2 separate regions of the Homo sapiens genome follow, and region 2 is linked to region 1. The links come from fine-mapping of genetic effects on gene expression. A gene starts in region 1. The other region holds a variant in brackets. All regions are shown on one strand. Distances are from middle to middle. Region 1 holds the start of PRSS22 (serine protease 22). Region 2 has its middle 11 kb from the start of FLYWCH1.

The links. PIP is the estimated chance that this variant, and not a neighbour inherited with it, causes the effect. A credible set is the group of variants that fine-mapping cannot tell apart.
Region 2: its variant is the best candidate, but not a certain one, in a credible set for the expression of PRSS22 in whole blood (TOPMed, PIP 0.63).

The regions. Positions count from the first base shown.
Region 1 is chr16:2,856,794-2,859,795 of GRCh38, forward strand. PRSS22 (serine protease 22) reads right to left here and starts at 1,377. Exons shown (of 6, transcript NM_022119.4): 1 at 1,230-1,377; 2 at 29-55. The coding sequence starts at 1,311. RefSeq lists enhancers at 762-1,362, 1,363-1,963, 1,964-2,563.
Region 2 is chr16:2,899,418-2,901,917 of GRCh38, forward strand. No RefSeq gene overlaps it. Among named protein-coding and RNA genes, the nearest start is that of FLYWCH1, 11 kb to the right of the region's middle. The variant G/GC (reference allele first, on the strand shown) is at 1,425.

The sequences.
Region 1 (3,002 bases):
TCCCGTCAGAGCTGCCAGCTCCACTCACCAGGTATCCTGGCCGCATTGAGGATGGCTGAGGGCAAGAGAAGGAAACGGTTAGGCCGGTGAGGGGCCCCAGGACACAGTGGTGAGGGGCCCTCAACGCCCAGTGAGGAAGGCCCCCAACACCCAGTAAGAAGGGATCCCAGTGCCCAGTGAGGTGGAGGTCCCAGCACCCAGTGAGGAGGGTCCCTCAGCGCCCAGTGAGGAGGGGTCCCAGCACCCCCTGAGGAGGGTCCCTCAGCGCCCAGTGAGGAGGGGTCCCAGTACCCAGTGAGGAGGGTCCCTCAGCGCCCAGCGAGAAGCCCCCAGCACCCAGTGAGAAGGGGTCCAGTGCCCAGTGGGAAGGGGTCCCAGCACCCAGTGAGGAGGGGTCCCCAGCGCCCAGTGAGGAGGGCTCCCCAGCGCCTAGTGAGGAGGGTTCCCCAGCGCCCAGTGAGGAGGGGTCCCCAGCGCCCAGTGAGGAGGGCTCCCCAGCGCCCAGTGAGGAGGGGTCCCCAGCGCCCAGTGACGAGGGGGTCCCAGCGCTCAGTGAGGAGGGGGTCCCAGCGCCCAGTGAGGAGGGGTCCCAGCGCCCAGTGAGCAGGCGTCCCAGCGCCCAGTGAGGAGGGGGTCCCCTTGAGTACCTGGTGGTGAGGAACCTCTAGCCCTCCAGTGCCCAGGGAGACTCTCAAGTCTCTCAACCCCAGGGCCCCTACCGGCGGGGCATTTCCTGGGGCCTGGCCAGGCCCTGGCTGCACAGCTGTGACCCTGCCCTCCCGCAGCTTCCCGTCCAGCCTGCCTTCCGGGGACCAGGACCGGCTCCTCGAGGGAGGCACAGACCTGAGCCCCTCGGCTCTGGACGCTGCTGCCGCTGGTGTGCCCTCCCCTGACCTCCTGCGGCAGGAACAACACAAAACGGTGCTTCCCCAGAGGCAAGCAGCGGAGGACGAGGAGATGGGAGAACACGGAGGCGAGAGGGAGCAGGCGATGGCGACGCCGACGGTAACTGGAGACCGAGGCGCGCTGCGTACTTGCTGCGTTTTCTGTTTCATCCTCACAGCCGTAGAAGAAACCGAGGCACAGAGCAGTTAAGGAGCAAGAGATAAACAGAGCAGAAGCGGAAAGGAGATGAGAGAGGCAAGGCCAGGAGGGAGAGAGGGAGGGAGGGAAGGAGGGAAGGAGGGTGGAGGTGAGAGGGAGGAGGGAGGAGCAGCCTCCGGACGTACCTGTCGACGCCAGCAGCAGCAGGGAGGTGAAGGTGCCGAGACAGCCCCCACCCAGGGCTGGGGGCGCTCCAGAAACCACCATGGCTGGTGGGGCGGGGGAGCAGGCAGCAGGCTCGAGAGACCCAGGGCGATGCGGGTCAGGGTGTGTAGGTTCCCTGCAGGTCGCCCCAGGTTTTATCCTGGGAGGCGGAATGCCGTCAGACCAGTCCCCAGGTGGCTCCCGCGGCCACCCCGGCTGTGGGTCCTGGGCAGAGGGCGGGGCTGCGGGGAGGAAGCCAGCCGCTACAGGGCTCTGGGGGGGCTCTAGCTGAGACCCCAGGATGTGGCCTCTGGAAGGGCAGGGGAGGGGGCTTGGGCCCAGAGGTCCCTGACATTAATTGTCCAGGGGCAGAGAAAGGTGCCAGGGCACTGAAAGGAAGGGGTTCCGGGCTGGGGAGGGCCTGGGTTTGGAGAGGCTGAAGTCTGGGGTACTGGGTGTTGGGGGTGGTCCTAGGGCCTTAGGGATCAAGGGGGTGCCCAAAGCTCAGTAACGGCTCCCACCTGCAGGGCCCCAGGCCCCTGTGACTCAGCCCAGAGACCTGGCGCAACCCGGGCTTGGGAATCCCGTTAACCCACTTCCCGAAAGCTGTGAATCAGGTGAGTGGCGACCTTGGTGGCCTCCTGGTGGCCGCCCTCCTGTCGTTCCTGGAGGCGGGGCTCTGCCCTGCGGTTCAGACACCTGACAACTCACCTCACCTGGACTCCTGGGAAGGGGAGGAGCCCATGGGCACCAGGGCTCGGCCAAGCAGGGGGGTTGAGAGAAGAGGGGCCCCGGGAAGGGCTGGGACTCCCAGGATTCAAAGAGCTGCTGGGCTGGGCTGTGGGGGGCCGGGTCCTGGGCTGGGAGTGGATTCTCGGTGCTTCCCCCCAGCGGCTGCCACAGTGGCAACCCGGGGCTGAATCCTGTGAGACCTTCCCTGACTCAGTGCCCTGCAGCGCCCCACACTTGGGACACTCCCACCCAAGCAGGGCAGGCTTCCTCCTCTACAAAGAGGCAGGAGCCTGCGCCCCTTCACTCATTCGATCAACAAGCCTCCAGCAGGGCCCTTGCTACCGCCGGGGGTGAATTAAAAACAACCATAGTGTCTGGGTGGGGTGGCTTATTCCTGTAATCCCAGCACTTTGGGAGGCCAAGACGGACAGATCATGAGGTCAGGAGTTCAATACCAGTCTGGCCAACATAGTAAAACCCCGTCTCTACTAAAAATACAAAAAAAAAAAAATTAGCCAGGCATGGTGGCAGGCGCCCTTAGTCCCATCTACTTGGGAGGCTGAGGCAGGAGAATCGCTTGAACCTGGGAGGCGGAGGTTGCAGTGAGCTGAGATCACGCCACTGCACTCCAGCCTGGGCGACAGAGCGAGACTCTGTTTCAAAAAAAAAAAAAAAAAACCATAGTAGTGAATATGTATGTAATAAATATATTTATACAAATATAAATATAGTATTTATATAATAGAGCAAACATTTAGGAGTGCCATGCATTGCCTCCTAATCCTCAAATGTCTTTATTATTCCCACTCTGCAGATAAGGAAACTGAGGCAGCTTAGGGCGGTTAAGTGACTTGCCCGAGATTGCTGGGTGAGTGGTGGAGCCGGACCTGCACCCCAACACTGGGGGTGGCTGCTGGGACTGCCCTCATGGAGGCTTCGGGAGCCTGGAGGAGGTGCCTCACCCTGCCTGGGGTGAGCCCTAACTTGCTCCCTGCAGAGTCAGGGTGGCGTGGGTCAGGGGC
Region 2 (2,500 bases), 42 kb after region 1:
ATGCCACCACCCCTGGGTCTCCGCACCCCAGCCCTTACTGGGCCCTTCCAAAGTGCCCCTTAGTCACTGCCCTCCCTGACCCAAGTCTCGCTTCCTCCATGAAGCCTCCCAGACTGACAGCTCCCAGGCACTAAGGGAGCTCAGGCTTGCTGAGAATGGTAGCTCCAGGATTCTGCTGAGGGAGAGGTAGGCCTGCAGCTCATGGGTGGGTTCAGGGAGGAACCTGACAAAAGCACATGCGGCCTGCCTGTCATGTTTTTTCCAGGGGATTTGTGGGCTGAGGAAACCTGAGTTCCTGCCCTGGCCCCCTGGGTGCCATCCCTGCTGGAGGGGAGATGAAGGAAGCACAGCTACCCTACTTGAGCTCCCAAGTCAGCGAGCCTCCAGGAGGCTTCCCATGAGTCCTCATTCTTTGACAACTGCCTCTGGGCTCAAGGCAATGTTAGGGTTTTGTTTGTTTGTTTTGAGGCGGAGTTTCACTCGTCGCACAGGCTGGAGTGCAGTGGCACGATCTGGACTCACTGCAACCACCACCTCCCGGGTTCAAGCGATTCTCTTGACTCAGCCTCCTGAGTAGCTGGGATTACAGGCGCCCGCCACCACGCCCGGCTAATTTTTATATATTTAGTAGAGATGGGGTTTCACCACGTTGGCCAGGCTGGTCTTGAACTCCTGACCTCAGGTAATCTGCCTGCCTCAGCCTCCCAAAGTGCTGGGATTACAGGCATGAGCCACCATGCCTGGCCCTGATTTTATATTCAGATGGTTTCTGTGTTCTCCACCATGCTTTCTCCTTTCCCAAGTGTTTTTTTGTTCGTTTGTTTTGTTTTGTTTTTTGAGATGGGGTCTCACTCTGTAGCCCAGGCTGGAGTGCAGTGGTGTGATCTCAGCTCACTGCAACTGCCGCCTCCCAGGTTCAAGCGATTCTCCTGCTTCAGCCTCCCAAGTAGCTGGGATTACAGGTGCGCACCACCATGCCTGGCTGTTTTTGTATTTTTAGTAGAGATGGGGTTTCACCATGTTGGCCAGGTTGGTCTGGAACTCTGGACCTCAGGTGATCTGCCTGCCTCGGCCTCCCAAAGTGCTGGGATTACAGGTGTGAGCCACTGCTCCAGGCCTGTTCCCAAGTACCCTTGGCTGTCTGTTCTTGTCAGATGTTAAGGACACCTGAGGATGTCAGGGCAGGACGTTTCGGGTGCAACCTCAAGAAGTGGGAGTGAGGAAGAGGAGGCCGGGGTGGGTCAGAGGGCAGGGTCACTGTGGGGCGCGTCTGCCCTGTACTCAGTGTGGCACCATCGGGCCCCTCCTGCTGTTGCCTGGGAAGCCTTACCCAGCAGTGAGGGGTGGCTGTGGAGCAGCAGGGCCGGGAGCGGGGGAGCATTTTTGCTGCCACCTTTTAGTGGAGTTGGGGGAATGACAAAGGT[G/GC]CCCTGGGCCTGAGTCTTTCAGTGGCGCTGGCAGTCGGCCGGGAGGGAGACGCATACTGGGGAGCTGGAGCCTGCACACTGGGCCTGGCCACATCACTGTTTTCCTCACCCTCTGGTTTTATTTTGAAACATTTGGAGCATAAAAGTTGCAGGAGCACGCAGTGCATACTGTATCGCCCTGGCCTGGGTTCCCCGGCTCTCCTTCCCTCTCTCTCTCCTCTTTTTTCTCTCTCCCTCCCTCTGTCTCTCCTCCACACACTTCTCTTTTGCCAAACCATCCAAATGCAGGCAGCAGACTCCAAAACCATTCTGCCTGCACCTCTGAGCACACCCTTCCCAGTCATAGCCATGTTAATGCGAGTGTGCCTGAGAGGATCGCCGCTGGTTCCGTGATATCACCCAGCATCATCCACACCACATCCCAGTGAGCAGTGAGGACAAAAATGGCCAGGTTAGGACCCCATGTTGCCTTTTTTTGCCACCCATATCCCGGAGCCCCTCTCCTGTTCTTTATTTTTTATTTTTACTTTTATTTTTATTTTTTTTTCGAGACAGGGACAGGGTCCTGCTCTGTTGCCCAGGCTGTAGTGCAGCAGACCTTCCAGGCTCAAGCAATCATCCTCCCACCTCAGCCTCCTGAGCAGCTGAGACTACAGGCAGGCTACTTTTTTGAGTTTTTGAGGAGATGGGGTCTCGCTGTGTTGCCCAGGCTGGTCTCAAACTCTTGGGCTCAAGCGATCTTCCCATCTCGGCCTCCCAAAGTGCTGGGATTACAGGTACAAGCCACCGTGCCCAGCCTAGTGTTAGCAATTTGATATTAAAATTGAAATAATAGGCCAGGTGCAGTGGCTCATGCCTGTAATCCCTGCCTTCGGGAGGCTGAGGCGGGCGGACCAGCTGAGGTCAGGATTTCAAGACCAGCCTGGCCAACATGGCGAAACCCCGTCTTTACTAAAAAAAAATACAAAAATTAGCCAGGTGTGGTGGTGGGTGCCTCTAGTCCCAGCTACTCGGGAGACTGAGGCAGGAGAATGGCTTCAACCCGGGAGGTGGAGGTTGCAGTGAGCTGAGATCAC